Regions from separate parts of the Homo sapiens genome. Here region 2 is linked to region 1. Evidence: fine-mapped expression QTL. Tissue or cell type: tibial nerve. Region 1 holds a variant in brackets; the other region holds the start of a gene. All regions are shown on one strand. Distances are from middle to middle.

The links. PIP is the estimated chance that this variant, and not a neighbour inherited with it, causes the effect.
Region 2: it holds the start of KCNJ4, and the variant in region 1 is fine-mapped to the expression of KCNJ4 in tibial nerve (GTEx, PIP 0.97).

Annotation. Positions count from the first base shown.
Region 1 is chr22:38,405,702-38,413,802 of GRCh38, reverse strand. It overlaps LOC105373030 (a long non-coding RNA gene), which reads left to right. Exons shown (of 5, transcript XR_938254.4): 5 at 3,405-3,447. Among named protein-coding and RNA genes, the nearest start is that of TPTEP2-CSNK1E, 11 kb to the right of the region's middle. RefSeq lists a silencer at 747-946. The variant C/T (reference allele first, on the strand shown) is at 3,428.
Region 2 is chr22:38,451,620-38,459,720 of GRCh38, reverse strand. It overlaps KCNJ4 (potassium inwardly rectifying channel subfamily J member 4), which reads left to right and starts at 4,522. Exons shown (of 2, transcript NM_152868.3): 1 at 4,522-4,741. It overlaps LOC124905116 (a long non-coding RNA gene), which reads left to right. Exons shown (of 2, transcript XR_007068096.1): 2 at 2,052-2,399. RefSeq lists enhancers at 6,626-7,244, 7,245-7,864.

The DNA of each region.
Region 1 (8,101 bases):
GCCAGAGGACCACTCTCACTGGCTAGGCCTGAGCTGTGGGCATGGAGAGGCTTCTGATCTTAATGGGGAGACTGGGGGTCCTGGCTGTGGGCCCTGGCAGCCTTTGGGGAGGGGAGGGAAGGCCAGAGGGTCTGAGAGCCCAGGAGGGGAGGGAGGAAAAAGCCATGGGTGGGGGTGTGTGCAGGAGAAGGTTCATCCGAACCCGTCTAAGCCAAGGTCTGGTCACAAGGCAGCACAGAACCCTGGAATCAGGGTCCCGCTCTGCTGGGCCAGGTAAGGCCACACCAGACCTTGGAGGCCCAGCTACCCCATCTGTCAGATGGGGGCAACAGTCATACCAACCTCACCGGCTGTTAAGAGAGTATAAAGAAGAGTAGGCATTTAGCTCAGCATCGGCAGCTGTTATTTTTATCCTCATCTCTCAAAGTTCGCCTCTCAATCCCAGGCACGCACTGACTCTGGCTCGGCACCAGACAGTTGGCAACGCCCCTTTGCAGCCGGCATCTGCAGGGAGGCACAGGTGTCCCCGTCTACAGGTGGGAGACCAGGCCGAGCAGCCCGAGGTCCCTCAGAGGTCAGAATCAGGACCTCACCCAGAGCCCCCGACTCCAAACCCGGATCCTCCCATGGCCGCAGTGTTGGCCGACTTGAATTAGGGGGGGTTGGTTGGGGGGATGGGCTTCTTCGCCTGTTTTCCCTCCTGTCACAGAAGGACCAGAGTGACCTCATTCTCCCCTCCCCCGGGAAGTGCACCCCAGACAGGGGCTGTTACTAATTATTCTCACTCCTCCGCGGGCCCCTGCGGGCCCCGGGGTCCCTGCTCCACAGCGCCGCCCGGTGGCCGCCTCCGGAGCTGCCGGCTGCTGCAGGCGGACTGGCGTGGCCCCAGCGGAGCCCCCGCACCCGGAGCCCGTCTGGTTCCCCCGGCTTCAGTTCTTGCCCCCACACCCGCCCGCAGGCTTCACTCCTTCCTGCCGCGAGCACCCGGGGGCGCCTGACTCCCCGCACGCGTGTCCCCACGCGCACCACTGCTGCTGCCAGCAGGAGTCACCACGCCCATTTCTCAGGTGTACAGGTCAAGGCTCTGGAGGCGAAGGGACTCCCAAGGTCACGTGGCCAGGACGGGGCGGAAGGACCTTGGGGCAGACAGCCAGGAGTGGGAGGCAGAATTGGAGTCCGGGTATGACTTTGTTCCCTCATTTTGTTTGGAGCACCGGAGTCTGCAAAGTGAGTTTCACAGACACGATCCAGCCCTGCGCTGCTCCCAGCGTGGCCCCCGGGCTACCCGGATCAGCCTCCGGGCTGCGCTGTCCAACACAGTAGCCCCGAGTCACACTGCGCACTTGAAATGTGGCTGGTGTAACTGAGGTGTGCTGTGAATGTAAGATACACACCGGATTTCAAAGACTTTGTAGTAAGAAAGATTGCAGGCCGGGCGTGGTGGCTCACGCCTGTAATCTCAGCACTTTGGGAGGCTGAGGTGGGCGGATCACCTGAGGTCAGGAGTTCGAGACCAGCCTGACCAACATAGTGAAACCCCGTCTCTACTAAAATACAAAAATTAGCCGGGCGCAGTGGCGGGCGCCTGTAATCTCAGCTACTTGGGAGCCTGAGGCAGGAGAATCGCTTGAACCCGGGAGGCGGAGGTTGCAGTGACCCAAGATCGCGCCATTGCACTCCAGCCTGGCAACAGAGCGAGACTGCCTCAAAAAAAAAAAAAAAAAAAGAGAAAGAAAGAAAGATTGCAAACTATCTTTAAATTATCGTTTTTTGTTTTTTGTTTTTTGTTTTAGATGAAGTCTCTCTGTAGCCCAGGCTGGAGTGCAGTGGCGCGATCTCTGCTCACTGCAACCTCGGCCTCCCAGGTTCAAGCCATTCTCCTCCCTCAGCCTCCTGAGTAGCTGGGATTACAGGCACCCACCACCACGCCTGGCTAATTTTTTGTATTTTTAGTAGAGACGAGTTTCACCATGTTGGCCAGGCTAGTCTCCAACTCCTGGCCTCAAGCGATCCTCCTGCCTTGACCTCCCGAAGTGCTGGGATTACAGGCATGAGCCTCCGTGTCTAGCCTTCTTTTTACTTTTTTTTTTTTTTTTTTTTTGAGACGGAGTTTCTCTCTTATTGCCCAGGCTGGAGTGCAATAGCGCTCACTGCAACTTCTGCCTCCCGGGTTCAAGTGATTCTCCTGCTTCAGCCTCCCGAGTAGCTGGGATTACAGGCATGCACCACCACGTCCAGCTAATTTTTGTATTTTTAGTAGAGACAGGGTTTCTCCATGTTGGTCAGGCTGGTCTCGAACTCCCGACCTCAGGTGATCTGCCTGCCTCAGCCTCCCAAAGTGCTGGGATTACAGGCGTGAGCCGAGCCACCATGCCCGGCCTTCTTTTTACTTTTTAATGTAATTGCTGGAAAATTTAAATTGATGTGATGTGGATCATTTTGTGGCTTACATATTGTAGGACAGGGCTAGACTCAATTGGCAAAAGGTGCCCACTCCTGGTCCCCACCTCACACCCCTGACATCCTGTGTGAGATGGGTCCTGGGACCTGCATTTTAATAAGCTCTCTTCAGGATTCTGCAAACTACCAAATCTCAGATTGAAGCTCCAGGAATATGTCGGGCCTGTTCACCGTTATATTTCTCAGGATCTGGCATGGGGCCCAGCACATAGTGGGGTGCTCATTAAATATTTGTCAAGTAAATTGCCTCATCTATACTCATAGTAGGTAAGTAGGGGAGAGAAGACTTTTTTTTTTTTTTTTGAGACTGGGTCTCACTCTGTCACCCAGACCAGAGTGCAGTTGTCCAATCACGGCTCACTGCAGCCTCAACCTCCCTGGGCTCAGATGATCCTCCCACCTCAGCCTCCAGAGTAGCTGGGACTGCAGGCACACACCACCACACACAGTTAATTTTTGTATTTTTTTGTAGAGACAGAGTCTTGCTATGTTGCCCAGGCTGGTCTCAAACTCCCAAGGCTCAAGCAATCCACCTGTCTCGGCCTCCCAAAGTGCTGGGATTACAGACTTGAGCCACCGTGCTTGGCCGAGAAGACATTTTAAAAAATAATAACTGGTCCCTCTCCCTCCCCCTCCCCTTCTCCCCGGTCTCCCTCTGATGCCACCAAAGTTGTGAAAGCCGAGGCTGGACTGTACTGCCGCCATCTCGGCTCACTGCAACCTCCCTGCCTGATTCTCCTGCCTCAGCCTGCAGAGTGCCTGGGATTGCAGGCACGCGCTGCCACACCTGACTGGTTTTTGCATTTTTTGGTGGAGACGGGGTTTCACCGCGTTGGCCGGGCTGGTCTCCAGCTCCTGACCGCGAGTGATCTGCCTGCCTCGGCCTCCCGAGGTGCCGGGATTGCAGACGGAGTCTCGCTCACTCAGTGCTCAATGTTGCCCAGGCTGGAGTGCAGTGGCGTGATCT[C/T]GGCTCGCTACAACCTCCACCTCCCAGCCGCCTGCCTTGGCCTCCCAAAGTGCCGAGATTGCAGCCTCTGCCCGGCCGCCACCCCGTCTGGGAAGTGAGGAGCGTCTCTGCCTGGCCGCCCATTGTGTGGGATGTGAGGAGCTCCTCTGCCCCGCTGCCCCGTCTGGGATGTGAGGAGCGCCTCTGCCCGGCCGCGACCCCGTCTGGGAACTGAGGAGTGTCTCTGCCCGACTGCCACCCCATCTGGGAGGTGAGGAGCGTCTCTGCCCGGCAGCCGCCCCGTCCGGGAGGGAGGTGGGGGGTCAGCCCCCGTCCGGCCAGCCGCCCCGTCCGGGAGGGAGGTGGGGGGCGCCTCCGCCCGGCCACTGCCCCGTTTGGGAGGTGAGGGGCGCCTCTGCCCGGCCGCCCCGTCTGGGAAGTGAGGAGCCCCTCTGCCCGGCCGCCACCGCGTCTGGGAGGTGTACCCAACAGCTCATTGAGAACGGGCCATGATGACGATGGCGGTTTTGTCGAATAGAAAAGGGGGAAATGTGGGGAAAAGAAAGAGAGATCAGATTGTTACTGTGTCTGTGTAGAAAGAAGTAGACATGGGAGACTCCATTTTGTTCTGTACTAAGAAAAATTCTTCTGCCTTGGGATGCTGTTGATCTATAACCTTACCCCCAACCCCGTGCTCTCTGAAACATGTGCTGTGTCCACTCAGGGTTAAATGGATTAAGGGCGGTGCACGATGTGCTTTGTTAAACAGATGCTTGAAGGCAGCATGCTCGTTAAGAGTCATCACCACTCCCTAATCTCAAGTACCCAGGGACACAAACACTGCGGAAGGCCAAAGGGTCCTCTGTCTAGGAAAACCAGAGACCCTTGTTCACATGTTTATCTGCTGACCTTCCCTCCACTATTGTCCTATGACCCTGCCAAATCCCCCTCTGCGAGAAACACCCAAGAATGATCAATAAATACTGAAAAAAGAAATAATAATAATAATAATAATAACTGTAGGCCAGGTGCAGTGGCTCAGGCCTGTAATCCCAGTACTTTAGGTTGAGGAGGAGGACTGCTTGAGCTCCAGAGTTTGAGAGCTATATATACACAAGGAAATTAACATATAGTATAATAATAAAATAAAATATATTTTATATACTTATTTTTAAAATCATTAAAATTTTTTATTTTAAAAATTAACATAAAAATTGTAGTTATTGTACACAACATGTTGTTTTGAATTATGTATGCACTGTGGAATGGCTAAATCAAGCTAAGTAATGTAGGTGTCACCACATACTTATTGTTTTATGGTGAGAACACTTAAAATGTACTCTCAGCAATTTTCAAGAATACAATACATTGTTATTAACTGTGGTCACCATGTACAATGGATCTCTTGTACTTATTCCTCCCATCTAACTGAAATTTTGTATCCTTTGACCAACATCTCCCAACACCCCCACTCCCTCTGCCAGCCTCAGCACAACCACCGTTCTCCTCTCTGCTTCTGTGAGTCCAACTTTTTTTTTTGAGACGGAGTTTCGCTCTTGTTACCCAGGCTGGAGTGCAATGGCGCCATCTCGGCTCACTGCAACCTCTGCCTCCCGGGTTCAAGTGATTCTCCCGCCTCAGCCTCCTGAGTAGCTGGGATTACAGGCGTGCACCACCACACCCAGCTAATTTTTTGTATTTTTGGTAGAGACAGGGTTTCTCCATGTTGGTCAGGCTGGTCTCAAACTCCTGACCTCAGGTGATCTGCCTGCCTCGGCCTCCCAAAGTGCTGGGATTACAGGTGAGAGCCACTGTGCCCGGCTGAGTTCAACTTGTTTAGATTCCATAGTTTAAGTGAAATCACGCGTACTTGTCTTTCTGTGCCTGTGTTATTGCGCTTAACATAATGTCCTCTAGGTTCGTTCACGGTGCTGACAGTGACAGGACTGTCTCTTTTTTTAGGCTGAATAGTATTCCATGGTGTATATATACCACATTTCCTTGATCCATTCATCCACCGATGGACATTTTCAGTTGTTTCCACAGCTTGGCTATTGTGAATAAAACTGCAATGAGCATGGGGTGCAGATGTCTTTTTGACATACTGATTTCATTTCCTTTGGATACACACCCAGTAGTGGGATTGCTGGATCATATGGTAGTTCTATTTTTATTTTGTTTTTGAGGAACCTCCATACTGTTTTCCATAATGGCTATACTAATTTACATTCCCACCAACCATATGCAAGGATTCCCTTTTCTTCACGTCCTCTCCAACACTTGTTATATCCAAGATGTATTTCTAAAGATCATTATCTATATAATTTCATTAAACAAAATATTTTATATGAAGGACAAATGACCTGGTTTCCCCAACTAACAAATTGCAAGGAAAATAGAAGAGATAGAGTAGGAACCTATAGATTGAATGAGATTTAAGAGACATTGAGGCCAGGCACGGTGGCTCACGTTTGTAATCCCAGCCCTTTGAAAGGCCGAGGTGAGGGCCGGGCGCAGTGGCTCACGCCTGTAATCCCAGCACTTTGGGAGGCTGAGGCAGGCAGATCACCTGAGGTCAGGAGTTTGAGACCAGCCTGACCAACACAGAGAAGCCCCGTCTCTACTAAAAAAATACAAAATTAGCTGGGTGTGGTGGCGCATGCCTGTAATCTCAGCTACTTGGGAGGCTGAGGCAGGAGAATCGCTTGAACCCGGGAGGCAGAGGTTGCGGTGAGCTGAGATCGCGCCACTGCACTCCAGCCCAGGCAACAAGAGCGAAACTCCATCTCAAAAAAAAAAAAAGATTAAAACCAAAAGATTTTTCATTGTATTAATAACAGACAAACTAGGCTTCAAGGCAAAAGTATTATTAGAAACAAAGAAGGAGTATATAACTCCAGGAAGATAAAAACAATTCTGAACTCTTATACACCTGATAACACAACCTCAAACTATATAAAGCAAATCAAGGAGAAGCTAACAAATCCATTATTCTAAACAGAGTTTTTTTTCCTTTCTTTCGATAATGCTGGTGCCAATATAATTAGAGATTTTATGACAAACATTCAGTGACTGACACATCAAAAAGATGAAAGAATCACTAAGGATATAGAAAATATAAACAGGGGCCAGGTGTGGTGACTCACGCCTGTAATCCTAACACTTTGGGAGGCTGAGGCATGCGGATCACCTGAGGTGGGGAGTTCAAGACCAGCCTGGCCAACATGGAGAAACCCTGTCTCTACTAAAAATACAAAATTAACCGGCATGGTAGTGCATGCCTATAATCCCAGCTACCTGGGAGGCTGAGGTAGGAGAATAGTTTGAACCCGGGAGGCGGAGGTTGTGGTGAGCTGAGATCATGCCATTGCACTCCAGCCTGGGCAACAAGAGCGAAACTCCATCAAAGAAAAAAAAAAAAAGAAGATATAAACAAGACAGATATTCAATATCATTAGTAATAAGGGAAATGTAAATTAAAGCCGCAGTGGGTTGGGATTTTACTCTCACTGGCTTGGCAGATATTATGAAATTGAACGGTTTCAGATTTGGCAAGGAAATGAATCAGTGAGGACTCTCATCTGCTTTGGGCGGGAGTATGAACTGGTTCAATCTCCTGCAAAAATAGTTTAGCCTTGCCTAATAAAGTTGAACATGTTGCACACACAATAATTGAGCAATTCTCATCTTACACTTATTACTTAAGGAACATATATGTGGCTAATAGTAAGAAAAAAGAGAAATACAGCTGGGCATGGTGGCTCACACCTATAATCCCAGCACTTTGAGAGGCTGAGGCGGGTGGATCACCTGAGATCAGGAGTTGGAGACCAGCCTGACCAACATGGTGAAACCCTATCTCTACTAAAAATACAAAAAATTAGCCAGGCGTGGTGGCGGGCACCTGTATTCCCAGCTACTTGGGAGGCTGAGGCAGGAGAATTGCTTGAACCCGGGAGGCGGAGGTTGCAGTGAGCTGAGATCACGCCATTGCACTCCAGTCTGGGCAACAAGAATGAAATTCTGTCTCAGAAATAAATAGAGAGAAAAGAGGAGGTGCAGGCATAGAGACATACAGGGGTATAATTCAGGTGTTAGCAGTTTTTATGGGTGATGAGTACATGGTATCTCTATTTTTTTAAAATTGTATGTCTTTTGCATGTATATCTTACAATAAAAATTATGTCTATATATTTGAATATATCATGTCTGTAGGTCAATAGTTCTGGAAGGAGACCCCAGACTGTTCACTGTGGCTCTTCCTAGAAAGTGTTATTGGGAGGCCGGACGCGGTGGCTCACGCCTGTCATCCCAGCACTTAGGAAGGCCAAGGTGGACGGATCACGAGATCAGGAGTTTGAGACCAGCCTGACCAACATGGTGAAACCCCATCTCTACTAAAAATACAAAAATTAGCCAGGGGTGGTGGCGGGTGCCTGTAATCTCAGCTACTCAGGAGGCTGAGAGAGGAGAATCGCTTGAACCCAGGAGGCGGAGTTTGCAGAGAACCGAGATCGTGCCATTGCACTCCAGCCTGGGCCACAGAACAAGACTCTGTCTCAAAAAAAAAAAAAAAAAAGTGTTATTGGGGGACAGGTGCATTCAAGGAGGAGACTTATATTTTACCCAAATATTCCTGGATGGTTTTAGTGTTGTGTTTTTTTTGTTTTTGTTTTTGTTTTTTTATAGACAGAA
Region 2 (8,101 bases), 46 kb before region 1:
CTGCCTCCCGGGTTCAAGTGATTCTCCTGCCTTCGCCTCCCGAGTAGCTTGGATTACAGATGCGCACCACAGTGCCTGGCTAATTTTTGTATTTTTAGTAGAGTCGAGGTTTCACCATGTTAGCCAGGCTGGCCTCAAACACCTGACCTCAAGTGATCTGCCCGCCTCGGCCTCACAAAGTGCTGGGATTACAGGCGTGAGCCACCGCGCCCGGCCCTGGCTGAACTTTAAGACACTCTCTAGGACAAAAACCTCTGGCCTCTGTGACTCTAGCATTTTGAAGTGGCCTTTTCCGTCTCCTCCCCAGCTGTCCACCTGCCTGGCCCAAGTTGCCCTCCCTTCCACTCCTCTCAGCCCTCTACACAGGCTCTCAGGGCCCCTGTAGGACCCAGGAGGTGTGAGCAGGACCCCACAGTAAATCGGTTAGTGAGTGCTCTGCTAGCCTGGAATGACCTTTCCCCAGAAAGTGGAAGTTGAGCCTGGTTCAAATCCTGGCCCAGACAGTTGCTTACTGCCTGACCCCAGACAAGCCACTTCCCCTCTCTGTGTGTCAGTTCAGAGTCCTCACCTGTGAGGTAAAGACAGGCATAGCCCGTACCCCACGGAGATCTTGTGAGGATCAAAGGAGAGAATGGAGAATGGAGATGGCCAGGACGTTTTACCAAAGTGTATGGTGGACAGAGGTTTTACAAGCATTCTCCTCCAAACTTCAGAGCGAACCTCCTTCCTCCAGACCATTGTTCCTGGCCACACCGGCCCTGCCACTCATGGCATTACTGCCCGTGCCTCAGTTTCCCCATTGGTAACAGGTGCCTGGAGAATTCTTGCAAGAATCAAAGGAGACAATCCCTGCGAAGGTCTGGATAGTGCTGAGCTAGGGGTACGAGTGCAGGGGAAGCAGGTTGTCCTCATTCCGTCTGGTGGGGGGGCGCATCTGTGGTGGATCATGACAAAGCCCACTTACCCTTGGGAGACCTAGTCCACACTGTCCCACTACAGACGAGGCCTCTGAGGTCCAGAGAGGACACGCATCTTGCCCAGGGTCACACAGGTTCTGACACCCAAGACTTTTCTCAACTCCCTCACACTGCCCCCAGGCCTCTGCATGCCCATTTCCATCTCTGCCCCCAACCTCACACAGGGCTAGAGGCTACTCACACGGAAGGTGAACAATGTGAAGTCTTCCTTTAGTCTTTGATTATCCTCAAAACAGCTGCTCGACCACGTGCGGTGGTTCACACCTGTAATCCTAGCACTTTGGGAGGCCAAGGAAGGTGGATCGCTTGAACTCAAGAGTTTGAGACTAGCCTGGACAACATGACAAAACCCCATCTCTACAAAAAATACAAAAATTAGCCTGGCATGGTGGCACATGCCTGTGGTCCCAGCTACTCGGGAGGCTGAGGTAGGAGGATGGCTTAAGCCCAGGAGGCGGAGGTTGCAGTGAGCTGAGATTGCGCCACTGCACTCCAGCCTGGGCAACAGAGCCAGATCCTATCTAAAAACAGCAACAACAACAAACACACACACACACACACACACACACACACACACACACACACACACCCCGAAGCTCAAAGTGGGTATTATAGTTCTCATTTTACATATGAGGAAACAAAGGCCCAGAGAGGAGAGTTGAGCTGCCCAGGGTCACACAGGGCTGGAGAGGAGAGAAAGGGCTCTTTCCTGGGGCCTCCGAACCTCTCCCTGCCTGGAGCTCCTCTGCTTGCCTCTCCCTACCTCCTCCCAGTCCAGTCTCCTTGCAGGATGAACAGCAGCCCCAGGGTGCGGCCCAGGCCCGGCAAGCTAACCCTCCTTGCCCCAGAGCCCCCATCCCATCTTCAAGTTTGTGCCCAGGGACTTGGCATCAGGAGACTGATTCTGTGACAGTAGATGCTTTGGATCTACAGACATCTCTGTCTGCATTTTCCCCTCCTTCCTGCCCCTTCCTCCTCTCCCTGCACCCCACACTCCCAGGATGGCTACCAGGTCAGGCCCGTGGCCAGGCAGGTCATTTGTCTCACCCTCATCCTCCCACTTTCCATCCACAGAAAAGGTGAAAAAGACCAGGCACACATCTCTTGCCCACAGGGCACTCAGGCTGCTTGAGTCTCCCCTGCATCCACGCACTGAGCATTCATGTGATGGAACATCAGTCCTGGCTGTCTGCCTGTGAGGACACAGCAGGGTAACCAGGGAGAGGCGTGGAACAGGACGTGCGTTCTGGAGGTCTGCACAGTCGGAGAGAGCCGTGAGAAAGGATGGCCACATTTATTGAGCGCCTACCATGATCTGTGTATTTCTTGTGCATCCACCTCACTTAATCTACCCCTTGGGAATGGAGGACGTTAGGGTCCTCAATTTACAGACAGATTAAATAAAAACTTGTTCAAGGTCAAGTAGCTCCTAGGTGCTTTTGAGCCTAGGTTAGCCTGACTCCTCATCCCACTAAGCAAGAACCATACTTGTGCCCCGCCCAGGGGCTGGTATGTGGTGGGTGCCTAGTGCTGGTTGAATGAATGAGTGGGTGATAAATGACTTCTGCTGGGGTCATCAGGAGGCCTTCTCAAGGAAGTGGCACTGAGGCTGGGCTTGGGGAACAGCAGGAATTCTCTGGGCAAAAAAGGTGGAAGGATATCTTAGTGAGGAGGAACAGTGCGTGCAGGCAGAGAGGTGTGGAGGCCTGTGGCGTGTTCTGGAATCTGTGGAATCAGGGTGTACCTGTGGATTTATGGGATGTGGGATGCCGGATAAGGTGGGGCCTGACTATACCACACTGAGGAGTTGGGACTGAATCCTTTTGAGTAGGGAGAGCCCACGAGGAAGGGAAACACTTGTGGTGGTTTGTGTGTTGCTGTTCTTATGCTGACATCCTCGAGGCTCAGGAGAGCCAGAGGGGATTTCAGATTTCATCAGTTCTCCACCTGGCTTTGGGGTGCCTCGGTCTCTCCCTCTCTGTAATGGGGCTAGTCGGTGATGGCCAGACTCCCAGGGAAGTTTTGCTGGCTGTCTAACTGCAGGTGTTCTCTCGTCCTACCACCCTGGAAGGAGGAGCACTTTCCCTCCTGTCTCCTCGGAGGGCTAGAGTGACGTGGCAGGATGGTCAGGATGTAGCTGGCTAGACAGGTGCTGTGGGTGCTGGGGGTTCCCTGACACCCCAGAGTGTGGGGCCCAGGCCTGACAGCTTGGGGTAATGGAGAGCGACAGAGAATAAGAGACTAGGGTTTGGCCTGGCTTTGTCATCTCTGGGTGACCTTGGCCGAGTTTCTGACCCTCTCTGGTACCCAGTCTCGCCATCTGTAAAATGGGGCAGTGGTGACTGAGTGATCGCGAGGGTCCCTCCAATAGGGCCCCCTCAGACTCCCAGAGTGAGGTGCTTCGGGTCCTTGACCGGCGGTACTTTGGGAGAGTACGAGGACCGCTAAGGAGAGGGGCGGACTCCGTGGGACCCCAGAGGGACCAGCTCCCACCCACCCCCCTTCCCGGCTCGGAGGAACCCTCTCCACCTGCCCCCTTTTGGGGGGGGGGCACAAAACCCGGGAGCGGATCCAGGAACGGGTTCTGGGAGGAGCGCTCCTGGGGCGAGGAGGAAAACCCGGGCAGGATCCAGGGCAGGAGCGGGGCCAGCAGCCCCCCGCCCCAGCCCCTGCTCCGCGCCGCGGGCCCCGCGGGAGGGGGCTTGAGGCCGGGTTAGGCCGAGGGGCGGGCAGGGCGGGGTCCCGCGGGCAGCCGGGGCTCCCGGGCTGGGGGGCGCGCGGCCTCCGCAGTGGGGCGCGGGTCACGTGTGAGGAGGGGCGAAAGTCTCGCAAAGCGGGGCGGCGTGCCGCGAGTTGGGAGTTCTCGGCGCGCCGCGGGCGGCGGGAGCTCGGGCTCCCGGGCGAGCCGGGGACGCGGCCAAGGCGGGGGCCGGGGTCCGAGACAGAGGGGGCCGCACGGAGAGTGGGAGGGGGAGAGACAGAGAAGGACAGGGGCCGCGAGGGAGACGGACAGAGACGCGCAGGGGAGAGAGGCAGCGCGGGCAGAGGGAGGCGGGGGGAGGCCGGCGGGCGACCGCGACGGAGACGGAGACCCCGCGGGCAGAGGGCGAGCGGGGCCGCAGGAGGCAGGGAGGCCGGGAGAGGGACCGGGACGCGAGCGCGGCGGAGACCCCGGCGGCAGGAGAGAGACGCGAGAGCGGTCGGGGAGGTGGCGACAGAGCCCGGCCGGCGGGGGCGGGGAGGGCGACCCCAGGCCGGGAGGCCGAGGGGTCGCGGGGCCGGGGCCGAGCGCAGCGGGGCCGGGAGTGGAGCGCAGGGCCGGGGGCAGAGCGCGCGAGCAGGAGCGGGTGACAGCGAGGGAGCTGGGCGCAGCGGGGGACGGCGGCGGGGAGGGCGCCTGCAGCGGGGGTGGGGGGCGCGGGCGGCGGGGCGCCCCGGGCCCCCGGACCCCCGCGCTGTGAGCCCGGCCGGGCCCGACGATGCTGACGCCGAGGCGGCGCCGAGGGCGCGGCGCGGGGCAGCGCTGAAAGTTGGGCGGCCCGCGGGGAGCGGCGCGGGACGGCCGGGACGCGCGGAGACCCCAAGACCCACGCGCAGACCGAGCGGCAGCCGGGGAGGGGAGCGCGGGCCGGCCGGCCGAGTTCGCGGGCAGGGGGCGCCGGGACTCCCCTTTCCGCGCCCGGGACGCCGCCCGCCGGATCGCGCCTTGGGATGTAGCGCCCGCTCGCCGCCTCCCGGACTCTCGTCGGACCCTCCGCCCAGCGGTAAGCCGCGCTCGCCCACCCCGGGCGCTGTCCGTCAGTTTGTCCCGCCGCGTGCGTGTCTGTGTGTCCCGGGCCCGCCGCTCCGGCCCCGCCCGCTCCGCACCTGATCCGGAGCCGGGTCCCGGCTGCCCGGCGCCGCGCGCGCGGTCCCGTGACTCCCCGGGAGCGGGCGGGCTCCACGGGCGGGCTCTGTCCGTCTGTCCGTCTGGGAGCGTCGCGGTCTGGGTTGTGGCCTGGAAAGGGGGAGAGAGGTGGGTGGAAGGGGTCTTGACCTCCTGCCCCAGCCATGACCTTTCCCTGCCTCCACCCACCCCAGTTGTCATGCCGGGGAGCTTCAAGGCAGGTGACTTGTGGCAAGGTGGGGGATGCCGCCTTTCCGCCTCCCCAGCTGCATCCTCGTTGCAAATGGCCCTGTGATCTGAAGAACGAAATCTCACTTCTCATGTTTTGAGCACCTACTTGGCGCCACACGACCCCAGGGCGCAGGGGCAGGGATTGGTAGAGGAGGCACTGCACGTTCACAGTGATAGACACAGGCTGGGGAGGGAGGCAGAGGCTGCTTTTTCCTCCGTGTGTAGGGAGCACCCCAAGGCAAGAGAGGTCTCAATGAGCCTCCCGCAGGGAGAACTTCCCCTGCAACCTGCCAAATGTCCCCCCACCAGTGTCAGCCTCCCTGCCCCCTACCCACATTTCTGCCCCCAGTGTCCCTGCTTCAGGATGGACAGGATGCAGGGAGTTGGGAGGTGGCAAGCTGGGTGGGGTGGAGCGGCGGGCTAGAGGCAGGGCAGCCTGGCCAGCTGACAGAGCAGGGCCTCAAGAGCAGTAGAATGTTCAGCAGCAGGTTTGGGGGAAGTGGGGAACTCAGGGAGGGAGGCCCAGAGAAGGGTTGGAGCCGTGTGTGTGTGTGTTCTCCCCCACATCCAGTCCCATGACCTCCATGGCTTCAGGCCTTTTGGGGGCAGTTAGCAGGACTTTAGGGGCCCAAGAGCCTCACTGTGGCCCTGGCTTGGCCTGTGCTGAGGGGAGCAAAAGGTGGACCAGGGCAGCTGGGGTAAGAGATGGGTGCAGCATGGTGGGAACAGAGACTGTTGGCCACTGAACTGACCCATATCCCAACTGGAGTTGGAAGGGCTGAGCCTAGAACATTCCACTCCATTCTCACTGGGAGGAGGGACTCTTTCTGGGGTGTTCCACACTGGGCAGTGGGTCTCATATGTCCTCCATTCAGCCTCCCAGAAATTAGCTCAGGTGGCTGGGAGAGCAGCCCCCTGGGCTGGTCACTCTCCTCCCAACCGTCATCTTCCACATCTGTGGCATGGGGACGTCACTCCCTGCCCCAGTGACCTCCAAGGCGGGCCCTGGGCTCAATGAGCAGTGGGCTGTTCACAGGCTGGGGAAAGCACTGGGGAGATGGGAGTAAAGACTCACTTTACCTTAAGAGAGATGAACAGCTAGTGGGTGGAGGTGGGCGTGGGGCAGTGGGAATATGGCGGAAATAGCTGACGAAGGAGGAGTGTCCAGGATTAGAGGGGGAATCTGGGGTACAATTCCTCATGGCCCTTTGGGTTATCCTTGAAAAGAAAGCTCTTCTCTCAGAAAATCCTCTGGAGTGGCTGTGACCAGGCAGAGCTGGTTGAGTTTCTGCTGGGTGACCTTGGGTGGGTGGCTTGACCTCTCTGAACCTCAGTTTCTTCAACTGGAGAATAGGTATGATGATACTGACTTCATCAGGGTGTTGAGCAGTTTCCAGACTGTGTCAGGTCTGTGAAAGCCGCGTGCGCCAGCCTGGAGCATAGTAGGTTCGTAGACATTTGCGAAAGAGAGAATGAAGTAGCTCTGGGAGATGCTGTGAGAAGATGTCTTAGCTTAGGATAAGAAGGAAGGGGAGGAGGAACAGTGTAGGCTTACAGGGCGGGCTGGTTCTTAATGTGGATCTGGGGGAGGCGGGGGCGAGTGCTAAGGGGGGTGTGAGGAGGAGGGGGCCCCTCTGCGGGGACCACTGAGTCACGAGGACATGTAAGCGACATGACAACCGGCAACATGGTAACCAGGAAACTAGCGGCGGTGGGAAACAGAGCTGGAGCAGTGTGGGGTGGGGGTGGCGGGTAGGCCTGGCAGTGCCGGGCTCAAGGGGTCCGGGGAGAAGCCAGGCTGGCCCCTCAGAGTGAGGAGGGGAGGCCCCAGGGCCAGGCTAGCTGGGGAAGAGATGGGGGCCCTGAGGGGAGGGAGGGGAGGCACCTCGGGGCTGTAGGGCAGGGGGCTCCTCCTGCACCACCCCAGGCTCCTCTCTGCTCCTCCACATCTCCACTTTTCATGCCTCTCCCCCTAGGATGCCAAATTTGGCTCACGCAATCTGTCGTCTCTCTTCTGAGATTGGCACCGGGACGAAAGCCGAGTGCATTACATCACCACCGCCGCCGCTCCCCCTGCACGAGGAGAGCAGTAGGGGAGGGCCAGAGGGCCGGGGGCAAGTGGCCAGCCCTCAACTTTCTTTCCTGTCTTCCTGCTCACTCTTCCCATCTCAGCCCTAGATGCTCGGGGGCTTCTGGGGGCAGCGGCTAGAGGCAGGACGTGGGCTCCAGTCTTGGGGAGATCCCAGGACCAGGGCAGAAAGTCAGGTCATGTTGCCAGCCCCCTGTCTGGGTGGAGCCTGGGGGCAGGGAGGCTTGGTTCAGGACCCTGGTCTGTCAGTGCCTTGCTCTGTGACCTTGGGCAGCCCCTTGCCTCATGTGGAGTCCACATCTGTATAGAGAACGGCTGGCCACTTAAGATCTTGGCGATTCTCCTGAAAGAAGGTGCCCTTAAGTTCTGCGGCTCTCCTGGGCCCAGAGGAGGGAGCCCTGGATTTCAAATCACCCTCTGTGACCTTGAGCAATTGGCTTCAATGCCTCATGCCTCCATCTCCCCACCTGTAAAATGGGGATGACAGAATCCTCAAAGGCAACAGCTATGAAAGCAGGAGACAGGAGTAGAGATAAGGCCTCTGACTCTGAAACCATAGACACTCAGGGGCCCGTGGATCCAGCATGCTGGGCAGGGGTTGGACAGGGTAGAGTGGGAGGGTGCCTGGATTCAGACAGAAGGTTTGGAGCTTAAATCACTGGTCTGATGCCTTCGTTTTACAAAAGTGGAAACTGAGGCCTGAGGGGGAAGTAGACCCATCAGGGTCACAGTGATGGTTTGTGGGCGGAGGAAGCAGAGCCAGGGCCATTGTTTTACAAAAGTGGAAACTGAGGCCTGAGGGGGAAGTGGACCCATGAGGGTCACAGTGATGGTTTGGGGGTGGAGGAAGCAGGGCCAGGGCCTGAATCCAGGGCTTCTGGCTCCCAGCTCTATCTGGAAGCAGACAGACAGATGTCC